3 linked regions of the Homo sapiens genome follow. The protein of the gene in region 1 purifies or fractionates together with the protein of each later gene. This does not show direct contact. Each region holds a gene or a part of one and is shown on either strand. Other genes may lie near its edges.

Region 1 (7,612 bases):
AGGAAAGTTAATTGCCTCAGTTTCCTCTTTAAAATGGGGATAATAGTTTATTTAAAGGGCTGTGGTTAGTATTCAATGAAAGGATACATTTGAAACCCTTGAACCTGGCAGCATACAGTAAACTCTTAATAAATTTTAGCTATTATGGTGATGATGATTATTATTTAAAATTGAATCTTTAGCCTGAATACCACCAACACAGCTGAGCAACTTTTCTACTTCCATTTGTGGTAATGAATTTTAAGGCATAAGCAAGAGAAGCAAGAGAAAGGATAAACAGAGTGTCCAGAAGGGAAGTGGTACAGAGAGAGGTAATGAAGAGAAGCAGAACTGGAGAAAATGAACTGGTATGTGGGATGTACAATGACCACCTGGGGTACCACAAGTTGCCTGCTTCTTTTCTACCTACTAGTGGAGCCAAAACCCTAGCTATTTTTCTCACCTTTGCTTCATTCCTGTGTTCCCTTAACTGCTGTTTTTCATTGTTCTGTGGAAAATGAATACAATTTTTCTAATCTCAGAAAGAAGTGGTGAAAATTATTAACTCCTAAGCACTTAGATTTTTTCTTGATGAAAGGTACCGTGCATTACAATGCTTTATATGAATTAAATGCCCCTTTTGAAAGTAATAGTATTAACTTAAAGTTTACATAAAAACCACAAACTTATGTCTGTATATAACAGTATCAACATTAAAATCATATTTAAAGAATTAATAGACACAAGCAATTTAACCCCAGAGACTTTCTCAATAACATATAACTCTTTTGGTAAATCCTAAGAAACACGATTCTTAATATAATTTATAATCATACAAACAGCAGGAAAAAACAAATTTATATTAGAAATAAAGCTTAACCTTGCTTTTAACTCAGAGTGGAAATTCAGAAGTAGTATTGCCCACTCTGATTACTTTGTTTCTCTAAAGTTCTATCAAGGTCACATTAATATAAATACCTTAACTACTTTATCTCAACAATTTCCTATACAATTTAATGCAATTTAATGGTAAATTCTTGCTTTGAAATTACACTAGTCCCTTGCTTCTATGGAAGGCAATTTATCTGATGTATAATAGAAAATCAAAGCAGATTAGAAGAGACAAGAAAAAAGAATGCAAGAGCATAGTACGTTCTGTTACCAACACTGACTGTAACTTAGGCGCTACACAGCGTTACCTGGAAAACAACAGGCCTAGCATCTTTTCTTAGTTGAAATGGTTCATTTCTTGAATGTGCTTCAGGAACCAATCATAAATCAGGTGTCTTGATGCCCAAGCTAATCAAGAACCCTATCAGTAATTCTCTCAACATTTATATTTGAATCATAAGGAATAAATTAAAAAATATATAATGCATTTAGTGGGTCTGTGTACATACACATGCATATATATACATACCCAGTACCAATGCCCCCAGCGATTTTGATTCAGTAGGTCTGGGGTATGGCCTGGGAATCCGTATTTTTAAAGGTTTCTCATCAGTTAATAGCATAGCTAAAAAAAAAGTTAAAAATAAATAAATAAATAAATAAAATTTAAAAAATGAAAAGTTCCCCAGATGATTGCATATGCAACCAAGCTAAAAACCACTTGCTTAGGTAACATAAAGAATCAGATAACACTATAATTATTTATCTAATGAAATTACTTTGTATCATTTATAGTAATACCTCATAGTTGTAATATGGCTGGTTAATAACTCCTGCTATGGCTTTTCCTTCATAAGCAATTCCAATAAGAACTGTTACATTGTCAAGAAGACCTGCAAAGAAGAAATAAATATCAGTTATATAACTTGCTCATATTATGACTCATCATTACTACATCAATTGCTCCAAGTTAGTTTTGCAGTTAAGGTATGGAATTTGCAATGATTCATCCGTGATCAATCCTATTTATAGTGAAAGGCATAAATGATAAGCTGGCCAGAAACAGCCATAGGATCTATGGCCACTTAATTGAATTGGCTATCATGGTCTCATTAGTACAATGTGTAAACCAACTAAATAAAGCAGCCATAATTTTGCAGCCATCATCATCAGATTCCTCTGTGCCTCTTCCACCATCATCCAACTCATCCTTACCTGCCGAATCACTTTATATTCCTGGATTACACTCTAGACTTGTATTTCAAGCCTTTAAAACAGAGTTTCTCAAAGGGAGGCCCAAGGACTATCAAGCAGCATTAGAATTAACTGATGTACTTTTTATAATACAGATCTTCTCAGGCTCCTTCCCAGAACTAGTGAATCAAAATCTGAGAGTGGGGGACAAGACCTAAATAAGCTTTCTAGGTGCTTTTATACACATTAAAGTTGTCTAGAGCTTCCTTATTTCACAATGGGTTCTACAGATGTTTTCAGCACACACACATACATACACATGTATACACACACTGTGATTCACCCATTATAGCGATGTCTCATTCAAGAACAGTAAAATAGTTTTTTTCTAGTAATTATGATAAATTTTTTAAGCCATGTCCTGAGAGCCAATACAAGAAAATTTATGTAGACCTTAATTTAATTTTATCATCATCATCATCATTATTATTCTTATTTTCTTTTTTTGAAACAGAGTCTTGCTCTGTCACCCAGGCTGGAGTGCAGTGGCATGATCTCAGCTCACTGCAACCTCTGTCTTCTGGATTCAAGCAATTCTCCTGCCTCAGCCCCACAAGTAGCTGGGATTACAGACGTGTGCCACCAGGCCCAGCTAATTTTTGTATTTTTAGGAGAGAAGGTGTTTCACCATGTTGGCCAGGCTGGTCTTGAACTTCCGACCTAATTATCTGCCCACCTCGGCCTCCCAAAGTGCTGGGATTACAGGCATAAGCCACCACGCCTGGCCTAGATCTTAAGTTTAAAAATAAAACTCTAAGCTTAAAACCTAAAACCTACCAGGTGCGGTGGCTCACACCTGTAATCCCAGCACTTTGGGAGGCCCAGGTGAGTGGATCACCTGAGGTCAGGAGTTCAAGACCAGCCTGACCAACATGGTGAAACCCCATCTCTCCTAAAAATACAAAAATTAGCTGGGCGTGGTGGCAGGTGCCTGTAATCCCCGCTACTTGGGAGGTGAGGCAGGAGAACAGCTTGAACCTGGGAGGCAGAGGTTGCAGTGAGCCGAGATGGTGCCACTGCACTCTAGCCTGGGCAATGAGCAAGACTGTCTAATAGAAAAAACAAAACCTAAAACTCTGGCTCTGAGCTTGTTCATTCCTACATTTATATGGCCAATTTTATTTTAATTTGTTGCTCTCTAATTGTTCTCATCTTAGATAAGGAGAAATATTGTACTGTGTTTCAAAACCCACCTTTAGAAGGTGAGGCTATGAAATGTGAAAGCAGTTCACAGATTAGGGGAGAGTGAATGGGGAGGGCATGGGATGGTGGTGGTGGCAGAGCAAGAGCTACACAGTTGTACTCGTTATCGTTTTTCTACCCCAATAAAGCTGGGTTCAGTATAGTCATTTTGGTAACACTGGTTTAATATGTTATTCTCATCTGGGAGACATTAGAAGTGTGGGGCTGGTGGAGTATGTGGGGGGTGGTATTTGAAGGAGATGAATTTTATTCTCCTGTCTTAACAATCAACGATGTATGATAACCATGAGCACAAATATAGCTTTAGGGGTAAACATAACACATGATAGTAGCTTTCCATACAACATACAAAATATCAAATATTTACAACTAACATCATATCCTTGTCCCACTACTGTCAAATATGAATACAAAAGAGATATCAACCTTCGGTATATTCCTTGGTTCCATCCAGAGGATCAACCCAGACCACGAGCTAAAATTAAAAAGAGAGAAGGAAAATATCTAAATCAAGCACACAAAATTCTAAAAATAGATTTAAATAGATTAAAATTACTCTTTTTTTCCTGTTTGAAATTGTATTATGGATGGCTTAAATTAATGTCATCTGTTTTGAGATAGTACAAAAAGCTTATTCTTTTGTAATCATGGAAAAAGTCCATTTGAATAAGAAAAAAGTCTGATTTAAGAATTTTCAGGCCAAGCACGGTGGCTCACACCTGTAATCCCGCACTTTGAGAGGCCGAGGCGGGTGGATCACCTGAAGTCAGGAGTTCGAGACCAGCCCGGCCAAAGTGGTGAAACCCCATCTCTACTAAAAATACAAAAATTAGCCGGGCGTGGTGGTGGGTGGCTGTAATCCCAGCTACTCAGTAGGCTGAGGCAGGAGAATCACTTGAACTCAGGAGGCGGAGGTAGCAGTGAGCAGAGATCGTGCCATTGCACTCCAGCCTGGATGACAAGAGCAAAACTCCATCTCAAAAAAAAAAAATACAAAAAAATGATTTTCAACATGAAATGCTTAACTGATAAAAGTTTGTTGTCATTTGAACACTAAGCACAATGAATATACTGATCTCTAGATCATGGTACAGGAAAAACTTGTAAAGTGGCAAAAAAATGTTTTGAACAAGCACAGTTGCTACTCATTTTTATATATAAGTGCTGATTTTAAAAAAACAAGTCTGATTATCTTAAGGACACAGTCCATACAATCCAAAGAAAAATGAATAATAAAACTGGCAGCAGATTTAAAAGGAAAATTCCTTCTGTTTAGGACATTTAATATGATTCAGGATATGCTGCCTTTAACCACTACAATGATAACATTATGTGAATTTCTGAGTGAGGGCATGTTTCTGATGGAGAACACCATGTCTCACTTTCTTTTCTTTTTTGCTTTTTTTGAGACAGAGTCTCACTCTGTCACCCAGGCTGGAGTGCAGTGGCGCGATCTCGGCTCACTGCAACCTCTGCCTCCCGGGTTCATGCCATTCTCCTGCCTCAGCCTCCCAAGTAGCTGGGACTACAGGCGCCTGCCACCACACCCAGCTAATTTTTTGTATTTTTAGTAGAGATAGGGTTTCACCGTGTTAGCGGATTCAGGCGATTCTCCTGCCTCAGCCTCCCAAGTAGCTAGGACTACAGGCGCGCACCACCATGCCCAGCTAATTTTTTTGTATTTTTAGTAGAGATGGGGTTTCACCATGTTGGCCAGAATGGTCTTGATCTCTTGACCTCGTGATCCGCCTACCTCAGCCTCCCAAAGTGCTGGGATTACAGGCTTGAGCCACCTTACCTGGCCCCAGCACCATCTCTTAAAGAGATTATTTTTTCCCCAGTTGAATGGCCCTGGCACACTTGTGAAAAATCAGCAGGCCATAGATGTATAGGTTTCACGCTGGTCATGGTGGCTCACGCCTATAATCCCAGCACTTTGGGAGGCTGAGGCGGGCAGATCACCTGAGGTCGAGAGTTCAAGACCAGCCTGACCAACATGGAGAATCCCCGTCTCTTCTAAAAATACAAAATTAGCTGGGCGTGGTGGCACATGCCTGTAATCCCAGTTACTCAGGAGGCTGAGGCAGGAGAATTGCTTGAACCTGGGAGGCGGAGGTTGGTCTCGATCTCCTGACCTCGTGATCCGCCTGCCTCGGCCTCCTAAAGTGCTGAGATTACAGGCGTGAGCCACCATGCCCAGCCCCACCATGTCTCATTTTCTTTGTTTCCTCCATACCACAGAGCAAAGTGTCTTATTCATAGTAAGTCTCCAATGAATATGCCTTAAATAATTAAAAATTGGAAAACTAAAGACATTATGGTGGCTATCTGAAGTCACAGGTTTAACTTAAGCAACTATAAAAAGCAAGCAGGATGACATTTATGTTCTTCTAAAAATATAAGGTAGCAACCTGTTTCATAGCCTTCTATCCCCAATTACCAATGAATGTTTTACTAGCAAATCTACTACATATCTACTAAATAACAAATTAGATTTTCTTCCTAAAAGTATTTATTTATTTATTTAATGAGACAGGGTCTCACTCTGCTGTCCAGGCTGTAAGGTACATGTAAAACTGCACAAGGTAGGAACAAAGTAGGACAACTTACACTTCCCAATTGCAAAACTTAATGCAAAGCAAGAAAGTGTGGTACTGGCATAAGGATAGACATATAGACCAATAGAATATAACTGAGAGTCCATAATGAAACCCATACATCTATTTCTTTTCTTTTTTCTTCTTTTTGAGACTAAGTTTTGCTCTTGTCACCCAGACTGGAGTGCAATGGCGCAATCTCGGCTCACTGTAACCTCCGCCTCCCAGGTTCAAGCAATTCTCCTGCCTCAGCCTCCTGAGTAACTGGGATTACAGGCATGTGCCACCACGCCCAGCTAATTTTGTATTTTTAGAAGAGACGGGGATTCTCCATGTTGGTCAGGCTGGTCTTGAACTCTCGACCTCAGGTGATCTGCCCGCCTCAGCCTCCCAAAGTGCTGGGATTATAGGCGTGAGCCACCATGGCCAGCGTGAAACCTATACATCTATGGCCTGCTGATTTTTCACAAGTGTGCCAGGGCCATTCAACTGGGGAAAAAATAATCTCTTTAAGAGATGGTGCTGGGGCCAGGTAAGGTGGCTCAAGCCTGTAATCCCAGCACTTTGGGAGGCTGAGGTAGGCGGATCACGAGGTCAAGAGATCAAGACCATTCTGGCCAACATGGTGAAACCCCATCTCTACTAAAAATACAAAAAAATTAGCTGGGCATGGTGGTGCGCGCCTGTAGTCCTAGCTACTTGGGAGGCTGAGGCAGGAGAATCGCCTGAACCCAGGAGGTGGAGGTTGTGGTGAGCCAAGATCGCGGCCCTGTACTCCAGCCTGGTGACAGAGCGAGACTCCGTCTCAGAAAAAAAAAAAAGAGATGGTGCTGGTTGCAGCCTCAACCTCCATGGGCTCAGGTGATCCTCCCATCTCAACCTCCCAAGTAGCTGAGACTATAAGTGTGCACCACCATACCTGGCTAATTTTTGTATTTTTTGTTGAGACAGAGTTTCACCATGTTGCCGAGTCTGGTCTCGAACTCCTAGACTCAAGCAATCCAACCACCTCGGCCTCCCAGAGTGCTGGGATTACAGGTGTGAGCCACCATGCCTGTCCCTAAAAGTATTTTAAATAACGGTTTTAGAGTGCAAAGGAAACCCATAGGATGAGAAACTGAACTCTAAATCCATATGGTTGCCTGATACTTCCATGTTGGCTCTGAAAGATATCAAGTTTCTGGTTGCCCCTATTTTATAACTACCAATTTTTCATCTTACATGCAAATATTATTTCCTTTACTATGGCAAAAAGCCCAGGTTAATAGAGAGTTGAGTATAAATATGGGTCATACATCTTCTTCTTTAATAGCACTGTACTGCGATGGGCATGGTTGCTTCAGTATTTCTTCCCACTGACTGTCTTCAATCAGCTCTTGATCCACTTCCTCAGAAGGCAGATCCTAAAGCAGAGATAACCCTAATGGTTACTGAAGCTGTTTAGTGTTTACAGAGTATGCTTTGTCTCATTAACAGAAGAAATGCAGCATCACAGTTTTCACTAGTTCTTCTGGTTTACCATTTATATTTAGAGCTTTTAAAGCAAACCTTAAAAATTTGCAAAAACAACCATATGTGGCTCATCAAAATTGACTAAATGGTTCCAGTGTCATTATACTGAAGAGAGTTTAAAAAGAAAAGAATTTTTAAGTATTATACACTCATTTAAACAAGTGTCTCTGACAGCA
Region 2 (7,800 bases), on another chromosome or scaffold:
TATGATACTAAGGCTAATAAAAATCATAGAACTGAACCCAATTACTTCTACCTTTTATATTCTATTTTCACACATTTCTGGTCAAACACAAAACAGTAGAACTTTCTTCAGGGAGTTATTGCACCTCCTTTTACTCTGAATTTGTTTGCTCTCCAGTCATACCTTACTCCTTGCTTTAATGTATCTCTTCAAAAATAGACTTTATAGAATTATTGATTGCCAGGTTTTTTTTTTCATGACTCCTAAGCATCCTTATTTCCTCTCATGCTTAACTGATGTAATTTTATTTGTTCCTGCTTAAATAATCATCACTGATCAGGCAGGAATTAAGCACACAGCAATCCATTCATTCAGTCATTTTTCCAGAAGCATCTCTTGCATGCTTGCTATGTTAGAGACTTTTTGATAGATGCACCAACTTCTTAGAGTTGTTTCTGATTCATTACTTAGGAACATTTCAAGAGGGCAGTTGGAAGTCTCTGTACCTTCAAAGGAATTACTAACACCCTTATTTTCTCTTCATTCCAAAACCTAAGACCTTTATTCTCTAAGACATCCTGTTCTCATTTTTTTTTTCAATCTGTAGCAGGTCTTCCCTTGCTTATGTCAGTGGACTGTTTAAATGAAGAGTGGACTGTTTGAGAAGTGGACTGTTTAAATCAGTATAGACACAGGCTGTCAGTGTTTCTTTATGTTTCCTTTAAAGACATTTTCGTAATGATTAATATAAATGAGTTAATGGAAACAAAAATGTAAACAGTAGTTGATAAAAGAATAGTATCAATTAAAAACATACTGTGAAGTATTCAACTTCACCAGTGATTTAAAATAGAAATGAAAGCAAAATAATATTTTCTACAGCGGAGCAAATAAAATGAAAGATAATACATAATGTTGGTGAGGACATTTTTAAAGGGACACCCATATATTGCACTGGTATGTAGGTGAGTACACTCTCTTTGGAGAGAAATTTGTAAATAGTAATCAAATATGGCAATATTGACATGCATTGTAGCAGCAATGAAAATGGAATATTTTGTAATCATTTAAAGTAATGTTTTAAAAGAACTTTGTAATAACATCAAAATACATTTAACATAATATTGCCTCCAAAAAGCATTATGCAAGTCAATGGCAATTTTCAAAACTATGTTCTGAGCATTGACATAAATGCTAGAAGATAATACTTTAGTGTTAACAGAGATTATGTTTGTGTGGTGGGTTATTATCTATTATTCTGTATTTCCACATTTCTTTAAATATCAAATGAAAGTGAATACAACCTAGTACTTGACATTTTAACATTTTCAATACCAGATATGTCAATAAGGAATTCATAAAATAAAGTGCCCTGAGGGATTTCACAGGCTAAATGCTTCTATTTTTTAAAATGTATTAATAGAAAAGAAGACTAAATCTAAAAAAAAAAATTCATTTTATCAGAGAGTGACTCATAAGTTTAGAAAACCTTTGATGACCTGGCTCACAAAGAATGTACTTCCAAGTACACAGGGTCCCCAGCCTGATGTGTGTGCCTGCATTCATGCCTGTCACTCTGCTCAGCTGCGTGCAGACAGCTTATATGAAGGAGGACTGTGTACATGTGGTCAGAGAAGAAAAAAATGCTTATTTTTTAAAATGTTTTGAAAAATAATCTGTCCTAAAAGTGTAACATTTCCACTAAATTTTTTCATGTCTGACTTTAACATTCCCTACCAACCAACTCTTATAGCCTCAACTCCTTTGATCTATCCTAATGTAAACTCCCTCACTAATGTGTAATATATTTTTTTCCAGTTTGGTTATAGATTTCAGTCTAGCCTGAACACTCAAGTATGAAACTAGCCACTATTTTATTTATTGGCTGTTCCAACCTCCATTGTGGAATTATAATTGATGGATTTTCCAAGTCTCTAATTCAGAATATTTAATCAAATTTTCCAAAATTTCTGCCTTCTCCTCCTTCATTCTGATGACTAAAGACATGGACCATAAAATATATATACATATATACATACATATGTATATGTATGTATATACACATATATATATGTATGTATATATACATACATATATATATGTATATATACACACACATATACATATGTATGTATATATACACACACACATATATATATGTATGTATATATATACACACACATATATATATGTATGTATATATATACACACACATATATATATGTATGTATATATATACACACACACACCGTAGTTTGCAAGTCTGCATCTGGGACCCTTTACTGATAAAAATGAAAGCCCATTAAAACTCTCATGCCCACATTTCTCTCTAGACTTTAGAGTAGGAGAATTCTATCCTAGAATTGTTGATTGTTGACATTTCTATGGAAAAACATGTTTAATTCATCATGCTTTGTAGTCAACTGCTATAAATGGTGATGAAGTCTTTTCCTTGGTCAAGCTCTGGACTCCTCAGTACTTCCACTGTCATATTTGATTAAAACATAAGTGATGAAGGGAGGAAATATATTATAGTATTCATTGCATGGGTACCTTAGGGTAATGGGACTATGACTGATTTAAATTTATTTTGCATCCTAAAAAGTTTCCATTAGTGGGTGCAGCACACCAGCATGGCACATGTATACATATGTAACTAACCTGCACAATGTGCACATGTACCCTAAAACTTAAAGTATAATAATAAAAGAAAAAAAAACTTAAAAAGAAAAGTTTCCATAATGAGGATTGAGTTTATATCGTTTTCTTAATTAAGGAAAGACAACCCTCACTACACACACACACACACACACACACACACACATAAAAAGACAAGAGGTGAGATCAAGGCGTAAACTAGTATTGGACTAAGCCAGTAAGTACTGCTTCTCAGTCCTCAGTTCTCTAGGTTGGGAGTTTTCCTTTTGCTATTTTCATTCTCCTCCAATTCATTTTTCAATGATCTTCAACACAAATTTCGCCTTTATTTCTTGTTCAAAATACTTCCATGACTATTATGAATACTATTTATGGATGAAGGCTGAACATTTTAAGGCATACTAAGTCTCCCATGATATGGTACCTTTTCATTTTCCCATTCTATACCCTGCATCTAGGCTTTTAAAAAATATACCACATGACTTCATGCCTCTAGGCTATTGCTCATGCCACGGCATCCCTTCTGGGTTTTTTCCCCTCTTTATCTACTTGGTGAATTTGCATCCTTCAGTATAACACAGCTCAACATAATTCTATGCTTAAACTTTACTGAAAATGCACAAGGAACTTGATCTTTCTTTCTTATTTTCCCCATTTTATTTATTTTCCCATTGCATTTGGGCAACTTTCATGGCACCAGTTATTTTATTAATTATTTGTATAAACTAGTATGAGCCTATTTTGTTTAGCTTTCTATCACCAGGAGCCATGAAGCACTTTGAAATCAAATACTGTTTGTACTTGAATATATTAAGTAAGCGTGAGGACTTAAATTAAACTTTGTTCCTCTTTAAAAAAATCCTTACCCCAACTCTAGCACTGATTCTATGTTATTGAAGCTTACAATCTTTATGTCATTTTCTGTCATCTTTTCTGTTATGAGAAGACCTAGGTATGAGTCTATTGCCTTTATTCCTTGGCCTTCTTTGCAAGGGTATCAAAGAACACTGCTGCAGTACTTCCTGTTCTACATAGTCATGTGACTTAAGCAAGAGCATCTGCCAGCCAGTGAGGCCCCTTGAGAGCCTGGTTAAACATGGGACTGAAGGGTTAAGTGAATCACTTTTTATTCATGTTGAAATATGAATGCTGAAGTTTGGAAAATTTTATATATAACATTTTAATAACTAAAAAAACTTGACTTAGGAATAGTGCTTATATTAAAATCAGTGTTTGTCATTGTTTCATGAAGTTTTTACAAATCTAAGAGGCTTAAGAGGGATATAATAGTCCACTTTGCTTTAGTTGTGTTTTACTTGATATTACTGATTGCTTTAACTTTGAAACACAGAACAATGCTATAGTAAGAATGTAGTATACTACTCTATTAACCCAAAACATAATATAGATAGGTTTATTGTATATTTGTGGAGAAAAGTTTATTCTAACGTTCTTTTTACAAATAGTAAAAATGCTATTTGTAGGATGCTCTGATTTTTACTTTTTGTAAAAAGAACATTGTCTTTTTACCCCAACAGAAAATGGCAAGCGTTCAGCTTTCTTTGGGAATCCAAAATCTCTTATGAGGCATATTAGGTATCACATGTGACATAAGCAAAAGCCTGTGATCCTTAGCATGTTGGAAAGTTGCTACTCTTTAGGATAAGGTTGTCCATGATGTCTAGGTCATTCCATTCAGCTGCATAAACAATTCCTTTGATGGATGGCTGGTTTTCTACAACCCCAGCATTATTTTAGCAGGAGAAGGTAGTATTTGATGTGTTGCAATTTGTGTTACATGCCCATGGAACATCTCTGGACATTACCTCAGGAGGAGGGGTTAAGAGAAGGAGGAGCTGTGGCTGAAGACATTTAATGGCAGAATGAATGGAAATTCAAAGATCGCTGTGCAGTCAGCCTTAAACACTGACTGCACCCCTCCCAGATTTCTTTTACATTAACTAAAAAGTCTTATCACACAATCTCATAAAATTTATGTAATTTCATTTAATTTTAGCCACAAATCATCAAAATGACGAGGATTTTGACAGCTTTCAAAGTGGTGAGGACACTGAAGACTGGTTTTGGCTTTACCAATGTGACTGCACACCAAAAATGGAAATTTTCAAGACCTGGCATCAGGCTCCTTTCTGTCAAGGTAATACCCATATTGATTGTTTCTGATAAAATACTATGGGGTATAGTTTAGCAGTGAAGCAAAGGTGTCCCTTACAAGGCAAATACAGTTTTGAATGTAGCTCTGAAGTACTAATGTATTAATGTTTCCTTTACTGTGGAACCTACTGACTTAGCAAATGCTAATTTTTATCTTATCTGAGTAACATGACAGTAATTTTTACCCAACATAAAGAATGATGACAATTCTTGTGAACATGTAAAATGTAAGTACACTGCTTGAAAAAGAAACATCTTTTCTTTCATAGATAGCTTTCTGTGACTAGATACTATTGCTTACAGTTTGGATTTAAAAAATGGAGCTGCTTATATGTGTGTGAGCCACATTATGGTACACAGTGTGTTAAGGTCTGTTCTATAAATAGGGCTTACTGAAAAGTTCTCTTTTGAAATATCATTTAAACATTTTAAAAACATAATTAGAAAATATGTGTTTTTGAGATTTGCAGGTCATCATGTAGACACTGCTTTAGCTTTTTCCTTTTCCTTCTGGCTGTTTTTTTGGGCAGGCTAAACTTATTATTTTCATTTTGTAGAGTAATACATAGAGGCAGATAGCAGCTGATAATTCTGTCCCTCCACAGGTATCTATAATTGAGAGGGCAAGCCCAGGAAAGAAACATTAATTGCCCTTCTTCCTGCCCCCCAGCATTGAATTATGAAATTCCTGTAGGAACCTCTGCTCCTTCCTGCAACTTTATGAAGACGTTCATTATCAGAGAAGCCTGAAGTTACTCCATAGGAACTTTGCCAATGAAAATAATCTTTAGTGACTATAAGTTTAAGTAATTATATTAGCTTTAGATATATTGCTTCTTTAGCAGCAAAAGCTGTAAAATTTGAAATAGAAAAAACAAAAGAAAACCTCTGTCTGTTGATGTGAAAATGGGAACTCACAGTTTGGAGTGTTCTGCTTATACTTTGCATGCTCATTGAGTTGACTAAGCTTCTATTGTTTCAGTTGCTCAAGTCAGGATTCAGTGGGGTTTTGGTCCTGACACCTGCAAGGCCAAGGAATATTCATAGATTCCTGTGGCTGCCAGGGATAGGGATGGGAAAGGAATGGGAGTAAAAGAAAAGGAAGAGAGATGGAGACAGGGGGAGGGGAAGGGGAGAAGTGTGAGGGATGGGAGGGAGAGAGAGAGAGAAAGAGAGAGAAACTAGCTCAAGATCCCAGGAGAAAAGAGGAAATACATATAGTAGCCTTAGTGGTGTGTTAACAACTTCAGCCTTTAACATTGAGAAGATTCTAACAAGAGTATAGGAAATTACCATTTTAAATTAAGAAAACCAGAAAGGAAAATGTCTTTTATGTTGTTACATATTCCAATGTATCCAATTTTACTCTTTTTAAATGGACATCATGTTTTAAAGATAGTTAAAATCATTAGGATGTAGTTACATAATGGCCATAAAGGGCACTGGGAGCAGTCACTAAAGGTTAGTGGCATTATGTCTAGTTATATATATTTTCTTGAATTTAGCTTAATTATAGCAAAAGAATGGGAAAGGAGAATATTCTAAACTAACATCAAAGACATTGTAACTAGATGTAAACTATGAGAATTTATTGTTAGTAATACCTCAAGGTACTCATGTATCAGTTCAGAGAAAATCAATAGTAATGAAAGTTATCCCCTATGATTATATGTGCCATCTAATACTTCAAAGTTGGGTGACTTGGAATATCTTCTTCTCACTCTGTGAGAAGGTAGGTATGTAGGTAAGGATAGGTGCATCTTCATCAGACCCCAGAAACCGCGAAATTGAGTACTTACTTAAAATGGCACAGATATGATTGAAATTAGAATCCAATTCTCCAAGATCACAATAAGTGCTCCATACAACCACCACCACAATCACAACCACGACAAAATGGTCTAATTATGTGGATGGATTACTGTGAAAGCAGTTCTAGCTCATGGTGACAGATCTGTTTCAAGGGTCTGTCACAGTGCACAGCTAAGAATGACAAATTTGTAGGAGCACTAAGCCATCATTTCATGGTGTAAAAGCCATTACTCACACTCAATCATTACTGGCCAGAGTTTTGGAGGAATGCCAAGCACAAAAAATAGAAGTTCTTGAACTTCACAATAGTGAATTAAAATTCCATAGAACAGCCCAAGGGGACTTGTGTTATTATTCAGTTATTGTGAAATAGTCCTCTATCTACTTTTCTTCCTGCCTTCACTTTAAAAACTCAACTGTCTTAGAAAAATATATCCAAATTTACTATTTTTAGATGGACATCATATTTTAAAGATAGTTAAAATCATTAGGATGTAGTTACATAATGGTCAGTGAAGGGCACTGAGAACAGTCACTTTAAAGGTTAGTAGCATTATGTCCAGTTATAGATGGTAAATGGATTGGGAAAGACACCCTGTAGTCACATCTATAATCATTGCCCTGTAAATTGGGTTGCTTTTTCGACATATTTAGAGGTTTGCTTTTCCTCTCTCTTTGATGACAGAGACGGTGGGTTTGACGACAGCAATGACGCACTTATAATTTTATGTGGCCCTTCCCTGGGTATTTGTCAGCGGCTAATATTTATAGAGTGCTTTGCCAATCGGCACAGTTGTATTTTACTTACAGGAAAGAGGAAAGAATTTCAAGGTGCTCTATATTTTAAAGAAAGTTGATATCAAGGGTATAAATGATCAACAACCATAAAATACTAAATACTAAAAAGTTTTAGATACCATAATCTTTTTCCATTAGTACTGAAAATGTTCAGCACTCATTATTACATTCAGCAGGCTGTAACAGTGTAATAGTGGGATATACTCTGGATTGGGCACAAAAAGATCTGGAATCTAACCCCTGTTATGCATTTCCTAATGCCCTGTTCTTGGACAAGTCACATATTCTCTGAACCTAAGTTTTGTCATCTGTATAGTGCAAATGATGACTGATTTACTTGACAAATTATGTGATTGTCACACATGAACAATTCTCAAA
Region 3 (7,612 bases), on another chromosome or scaffold:
CTCCAATTCTTGGCTTTTCAATTGTCTTGAAGGCTTTGCGCTCCTTCTCTAAAATATCTGTTTGCTGGCGAATCTGTTCCATCATCTCTTTTTCATTCTGTTGCTGCAACTGTTTTTGCCTTTCTTCCTTCTCAGTGTTTAGCTTTTCTAACTTCTTAAGCACAGGATTAGAAGACTCTGTATTCAAAGAAGGAACAATCTGATCTTTTCCTGAGCAGTGATACCTTCTAGTTTCCCTGTTGATATCCAAAGTAAGAGCTTCCCCCGCTGTGTCTTCATTTTCCAATAGTTTGTTTCTTTGGATACTTGTGTCTAGTTGGGAATTTGTTTTCAGTGGGTCTTGTTGGGGGATATAAAAAAAAGTAGGTAGACTATTTGAAATGAAGGAGTCTTTCAGCTGTGGTTTACAGGTAATAGACTCAGAACTGCAGACCACCATTTCCTTCATAGTTCCATCCTTCAAATGCTCTGCACTGCTAGTCTCATTTGAGGCACTGAGGGCATTGTCCCGTGAATCAAATTTTGGACTGCTGGATATCTTAGGTGATGGAAACTGCAAGTCTCCTTCATCTGAAATGACAGACTCTAGTTTGCTCTTTTGGCTTTCCTCATAGCTCAGAAGTTCCAAGCTTCCTTGAGAGCTCTCACTATCAGGTGTACCCCGTGGAGACTGAAGGCCTTCAGGCACCAATTCTGTAGACCATCTGCGATCCTCTGAAGGAGAAATACCACCAAGAGAACGAACTTTCAGCAATTCTAAGCTAAATATAGCTTGCTCTAGTTCTCTCATTCTCCTACTTTCTCTCTTAGCCCGGCCTACTTTTTTCTGATGGAGATCCTCCAAGGATCTGGGTCTCTCTCTTACAAGCACATCTTCCTGCAAGTCCACACCACTCTGGCTTTGGGCTCTCTCCTGCTGCTTGTTTGGTGACTCCTTCAAGCAGTCCACTGAACTTTCACGGCTAATTCGATTACTCTCTATTACAGATTTACATTCCTCTATGGCTTTTATTCTGTTGTCAAAAGAACAATCCTCCCATCCTGAAGGGTCTGAACCCTGAATTTCCAGAGATCCATATCCCTTAATATTCACCAATCCAACTTCTGGCTTTGTTTCTCTTAGCCTTTGTTCTTTTAAAGCTTTAAATCTATATAAAAACAGACAAAATGGGTTATAGAAATATCTTAGTTACCACTGAAAATAACATATTTCCTGAGAATTTAAGAAAAAATGCAGAGTTGTAAAATCTTTTTATAATACCTAAGTTCTTCTTAAACTAACTTGAATGCACATTTCATAATTTTCCTATTTCCATGAGTCAGATGATATTTCATTAAGTGTATTACTTCTACCTAGGCATTTCAGTCAAAATGTAAACTAATTCAGAAGTAAAGCTCTCATTTTAATAATGCCTTTATTTTAAAGTAAACCTCAAATTAAAGTGAAATTTTAAGTGTGAAATTAAAGTGAAATTTTAATTTAAGTGTGAAATTAAAGTTTCTGAAAGTAACAACAGTTGAATATTGCCAATTTTATAAGATTCAGCCTAATGTAGAAGTTAATTCTTAGCAGTTATGATCACAGACCATGTAGATTTTCAATCCAATTTAATTCAATAAAACCTTATTTAACTTCCATTATAGACAATACAATGTGGGTTAAAATCGGTATCACAGTATAGTGGAAAAGACAAATTGTATACAACCAATTCTAATACAAATTAGACAAGTGTTAATGCAGAGGTATAAACAAAGTACTTGGGAAGAAGAAAAAAAGCAATTATTATAGTAATAGAGATTACCTTTGTCTTGCTCTGAATCCTCTACATGTTGATTGCAAAAGGATAATTTTTTTCCTTTGTTCTTGGTACCTTTTACTTTCCCTGTAGGCTTTCCATCTTGCTTGTATGCAAATAGCAGCCATGTGCCTGCGCCTATAGTAATCTCTCCATTTCTGCTGGATAACGATGGCTGCAGCCCGTAACTCCAAGTACCGCTGCCTCTCTAAGTGAGCACGCCAGGAAGCTTGGAGAAGAGCAGCTGCACTAGCCATAACAAAAGCATCCTTCTGCACAGCTGCATCTCTGACTTGCTTCTGATTTAGGTAATTCCTCCAGAATCTCTATGGGGAAGACAAAATAACAGAAACTGGTTGTCATATCTTACACTGCATTTTCACAGGAAAAAAAGAGAATAAATTTCTTATGTCATAATTACAGGTTAAGTGGCTATGCAGCTAAATTCTTGGTGATTAAAAATAAGTTTTCTGGCCAGGTGCGGTGGCTCATGCCTGTAATCCCAGCACTTTTGGAGGCTAAGGCAGGCAGATCATGAGGTCAGGAGATAGAGACCAACCTGGCTAACATGGTGAAACCCCGTCTCTACTAAAAATACAAAAAAAATTAGCTGGGCGTGGTGGTGGGTGCCTATAGTCCCAGCTACTCAGGAGGCTGAGGCAGGAGAATGGCGTGAACCTGGGAGCTGGAGCTTGCAGTGAGCAGAATTCACGCCACTGCACTCCAGCCTGGGTGACAGAGTGAGACTCTGTCTCAAAAAAATAAAAATAAAAAAACTAGTTTTCTACAAAAGCAGAAAGTGTACCTGAAAAAGATAAATAGAAAAAAGTTTTCTCTTCCAGATATGTTTGGCTAAAACAGCTATTTTAAATAATATAACCTTGAAGAAGTTAATTACAGAACCTAATTTAAAATTTTTGGATGATTTCATGTCCTTCAAATTATTAGTAACTTTAACATATTATATTCTTTTGTTACAATTTTCCTAAATAACACTAATGGGTTTAAGGTAATCCTGACACACATTCCAAAGATGAAGATACTAAAGATTTTCTTGCACAAATGGAAAAGATCTTATGGAAATGATATAAATCAATGAGGGAGTTAATAAAACAAATAAAATGTAAAATAAGGTACCTATCATCCAAAATGAGTGTCTAAAACCAACGGTATATATACAACTCTCAAACATCACTCCAAAAACTATTAAATAAAAACAACTATGTCAACAAATATTAGGTAACTCCTTAGCCCCTACACAGATCTCACAAGACATTATAACTACAAATTCAATTTAATTTAAATTCAATGGAATCAATATTTATTAATAGTCTATTATATGCCAGATAATCTGTTGGGTGTTATGAGCACTTCAAAATTGGGTACGACATATTCTCATTTCTGAAGTTCACATTATTACTGAAAATGTTTTACAGTAAAAAGGTTCTGGTTACTAAACAAAGGCCAAATAAACTAGTCAATCTCATGCAAAGAATCCTTTGCTTCTCACCTGGATAATAACAGATGCTTGTCTCAGATGGAGGAAATGCTGCCTACACAGCAAGACCCTGAACCATCGCTGCAACAATATGATTCTGCGGAGCACCTCTTGGTGAAGCAGATCTTGTAAGTGCTGTCGTTCCTGCTCCTTTAGAAAGACCTACCAAAAGGAAGAAAGATGAGGAATGCAGCTTAAGAAGAAATGAGAAATTTATTTCATGAATCATCCTTTCTGTGATAAGCTTTTAGAGAAGAACAAACACAGTGGCAGGCATGTAAATGAAGTACTGATAAATATTCCTACAGATTTATCCAAAGTAGTCATTCTCAAATTGAAATGGAGATAGTAGAATACGGAAGGTGAGCTGGGTGTGGTGCTACATGCCTATACTCCTAACTACTGAGAAGGCTGAAACAGGAAGTTTGCTGAAGCCCAGGAGTTCCAGTTCTACGGCAAAATAGAGAGACCTGGTCTCCAAAAAAAAAAAAGACAAAAAAAGGAAGGTAAGGAAGGGAGGAAGGGAGGGAAAAATGACAAGGTGAGCAAGAATATCAAAATTCCAGTGCCAGAGATTATGATACATTAGTCCATTGGGGAAACCACTGCTATGAGTAAATGTATTACTGGTAATAAGTCATATTTTTCAAGCGTGTTGGGATGGGGAAAAAAGTTGAAAACCATAGATCTTGAAGCTTGAATCATATAATGAATAAACCAATGATAACAGTCTTTTTGAAATCCAGCGTGCATTAAAAGCTTCTCACTGTCCAAAGTTATTAATAAGTTTATTTTATTTACTCCTTCATTCCACTAATGTTTAGGGTTTGTGAGGCTGCAAAGGTGAAGGAGACATATCCCTTTAGAAACAGGAATTATACCTCTCATTTGAGAGCAGGTAGATATTATATACCCGAAGAGGAAGATGGTAAACTAATAAGGGCCAGAGACAAAAGATCCCACCTGAGTAACACAGAGAGTTGAAAATAATAATAAAGGCATGCACAGGAGACAACGGGACAATTAATCTCCATAAAAAAGATATTAAGTAATGTGAAGCCACAATATGAAGGTTCTCAAAAAAGAGAAAGATGTTTGGATTTAATGAGGAGGTTATCAGGAGGTTATTATCAAGCAGGAGGCAGACATAAAGAACTAAGTATATTAAGATAATAATTTTAATATTATGAGTAGAATAAATTAAATGGAATGACAAATATACTAGAATCAGATAAGTAAGCTGTTCACTGTATAAGCAATGTAGATGAGAAGAGATAAGGAATAAAAATAAAATGGAAGCAGTAGTAATGGAGAAACAGAAAGCGATGTAAGAATCTCTTTGTAAAAGGAAAAAAAATCCCTAAAACTTTGTGAAAGGATTAAAGTGAACGGTATGCCAAAGACAATTATGGTTTCTAGACTGAGAAACTGGAAAAAGGGTGACAGAGAAAGAAAGTATTTGATAAATTTAAGAACAGATGAATCTGGATATGGTCACCTTGGGCAAGCTGGCTTGGAGATTACAGTAGAGTATCTATGGAGAGATGATTTTTAGGCAGTTAAAATTATAGTCAGAACTAGAGCACTGGCCAGAGCTCTGTGATTAATATTGACTACATAATTAAATAAAAACCTGGGCCTAACCAATTGTCTTCTGATATCTGATTCACTATCTTTTTAATAAACAATCTCATAGGCAAAAATTATTATTTTTTAAATAAATGCACTCAATTTTGACCAGAGCTATACAGATTATATTTACCATGGTTTTTCCAACTTGATAATTATCTGGATTAAGATTTATTTTCCTGAAGAAATCCTGAATGTTAAATTTGGATGGAATAATATTTCGGGGAAGAAGTACATGGAAGTGGCTCACAAAATCCTGAAAAATAATTTAAAAATATTGTAAAATCAGAAAACAGTGTATGTAAACAAGACCTTAAACTAATTATCATTCTATTAATCTTTTCTCTTTCTTTTAAACAGGGTGAAACCAAGACGTGCATGTTAATTTAAGATATGATAAAAGGTTAATTCGGAAAACATAGGAGGTGGAGAAAGATATTGGGTTCTACATATCATGACATCAAAAGGGAATGAGAGAAAAAAAAGGCAGAGGCTAATTATCCCTTTTGAGAAAGCTTTATAAAAGACCAAAGAAAAGGGTATTTAACAAGACCCTAAAATTTCTATCAGGAAAAAAAAAGCAAACGTGGCAGGATGGGGACAGGGTATCACTGAGAATGAGGCTTTCCGTCCCAGTAACAGCAAAGACTTGCTCAGTTGCTGAACAGCTTCAATATAGTTTCCATACCCATAGCAGCAATTGCTGATACGAGTAGCTGTGAGCCTTGCTGGCAGCTTACTATGAAAGAAAATCCTGCTGAGAAAACTTTAGGGAAAACCAAATAGAATCTTTTCACTAGATAATTCTCATTGAACTATTTCAGTTACTGGAGAGGTCAGTGCAAAGAATTGTTATATCAGGAGTAAATTTAGTATTAGCAAACATTCCGAGCAAATGAGAATAGCCAAGTACTGGATTCTATTACAATAAGCTTAATGAGATTGCTGCCATTCAATCAAAGTAAATACTGTCTATCCCTTTTCAATTCCGTATACAAAACGTGAAATGGAAAGGAAGAATTAAGGAAAATAAGTAAGCCCCAAAGAAATAATAAGCAAGATATGTGGGAATCATTTACTTGATGTGTCTAAATATGTAAATATCACTATAAAAACAGAACCTGGAAAGAATATTTGGAGCTGTATCCTGATTGGCGAATTCGAACTGTTTCCAGCATCCCGGTGTATCGAAGCTGTCTAAGTACCAAGACATCACTGAACCTTAAGGGCAGCTAAAGCAAATGGAAAAAAGATTAACCCAGAACAGTAGATCTCCAAATTAATTATCTGTTTATAAGCATGACTAACTGTTGAGTATCTAGAGATTGACTGGAGGTTGTCTGGTTAACATATACAGTAACTAAGTATATTAAGGCAAGCTCACCTCTCAGCTGGTAGCTTCAGAAAAGTTCTGACTGCCCAACCCTAGGGAAAAGAGAGAAACCAAGCTTCCAGGCTTCTCTGGTTGTGAAGAGAGAGGACCTTAAAGGCTCAAAAAGAATGTAGTCACCCACAGAGGCCACATAGTCCAATCACTACAAAATCTGTAACAAGATAACCTACAACTGGGTGTAGTGGCTCACGCCTATAATCCTAGCACTTTGGGAGGCCAAGGTGGGCTGATCACCTGAGGTCAGGAGTTCAAGACCAGCCTGGCCAACATGGCAAATCCTTGTCTCTACTAAAAATACAAAAATTAGCCGGGCGTGGTGGTGCACACCTGTAGTCCCAGCTACTCAGGAGGCTGAGGCAGGAGAACTGCTTGAAACCAGGAGGCGGAGATTACAGTGAGCTGAGATCATGCCACTGCACTCCAGCCTAGGTGACACAGTGAGACTCTGCCTCAAAACAAAAACAAAAACAAAAAAGAAAATTCTTTTCTGACAGGACTTCAAGAGGTATTTGCTTCTCAAATTCTGGGTGATGCTAAATCAAATCCAAATAAACACCTTACAGGCAGGGAAGTGTGGAAAAATCCATTTAAAGTGTTTATAACATACTATTTTCCTTATAAATATTATAGTTAGTGCTTCCCCTCCACTTATTCTGCTTAAAAGTATTTAAAGCTCAGTTTGAAGTAAGCTGAGATATGTGCTCTCATTTATAGGACATTTTTACCTTTTCAGCATTAGAGCGAATGCATTTTACAAAATATGGTTCTGCTTGACCAAGTGTTTCCATTAGCTTGCTTAATGATGCCTGCAACAGAAAGCAATATAATTATCATACTCTTCCATTCCAAACTATTAACAAATAATTTATAACTATAATCAACATGCTGGCAAAACATTCAAAAAGTAGAGGTACACATAGAAAGAGGTTTTTGAAAAGCACATTGTGTATATTCTCATACTGGTTAAATTATGGATAATTAAGGATAAAGATGGTAGTTTAATATTAAAGCAGATAGCCTGGAAATAGTAAATATTGCAGATGTTTTCAGAACAATCAAATATAGAATTTTTTTCACTTTTCTTCACATTTCATCAAACAATTTTATTCAAACTCATGTATCCTACAACTTTTAAAATGATTCAGGAGGGTATCCAGTAAGGTAGTAAGCCCTTGCTTTACTTTAAATGTCTACAAAGTATGTAATGATATCCCTTTTTTTATTCCTGATAATGGTAATTTGCACATTCTCTCTTTCTTCCTGATTAGTGGCTAGAAATTTATCAACTTTTTGATT

The links.
Region 2: the proteins of BPNT1 (region 1) and CPS1 purify together in Homo sapiens (affinity purification with mass spectrometry; 2 studies listed by BioGRID and IntAct, with this or other methods). This does not show direct contact.
Region 3: the proteins of BPNT1 (region 1) and MYO9A purify together in Homo sapiens (affinity purification with mass spectrometry; 2 studies listed by BioGRID and IntAct, with this or other methods). This does not show direct contact.

Annotation. Positions count from the first base shown.
Region 1 is NC_000001.11:220,065,631-220,073,242, forward strand, and holds part of BPNT1 (3'(2'),5'-bisphosphate nucleotidase 1), read right to left. Parts: intron 7,328-7,612; coding exon 7,220-7,327; intron 3,803-7,219; coding exon 3,754-3,802; intron 1,764-3,753; coding exon 1,672-1,763; intron 488-1,671; coding exon of another isoform or gene 443-487; intron 1-442. UniProt on the Homo sapiens protein: Phosphatase that converts 3'(2')-phosphoadenosine 5'-phosphate (PAP) to AMP and inositol 1,4-bisphosphate (Ins(1,4)P2) to inositol 4-phosphate. Is also able to hydrolyze adenosine 3'-phosphate 5'-phosphosulfate (PAPS) to adenosine 5'-phosphosulfate (APS).
Region 2 is NC_000002.12:210,552,065-210,559,864, forward strand, and holds the start of CPS1 (carbamoyl-phosphate synthase [ammonia], mitochondrial isoform b precursor), read left to right. Parts: upstream 1-4,534; 5' UTR 4,535-4,654; coding exon of another isoform or gene 4,655-4,669; coding exon 4,670-4,795; intron 4,796-7,800. UniProt on the Homo sapiens protein: Involved in the urea cycle of ureotelic animals where the enzyme plays an important role in removing excess ammonia from the cell.
Region 3 is NC_000015.10:71,897,885-71,905,496, forward strand, and holds part of MYO9A (unconventional myosin-IXa), read right to left. Parts: intron 7,123-7,612; coding exon 7,042-7,122; intron 6,156-7,041; coding exon 6,045-6,155; intron 5,180-6,044; coding exon 5,057-5,179; intron 3,457-5,056; coding exon 3,307-3,456; intron 2,123-3,306; coding exon 1,803-2,122; intron 1,149-1,802; coding exon 1-1,148. UniProt on the Homo sapiens protein: Myosins are actin-based motor molecules with ATPase activity. Unconventional myosins serve in intracellular movements. Regulates Rho by stimulating it's GTPase activity in neurons.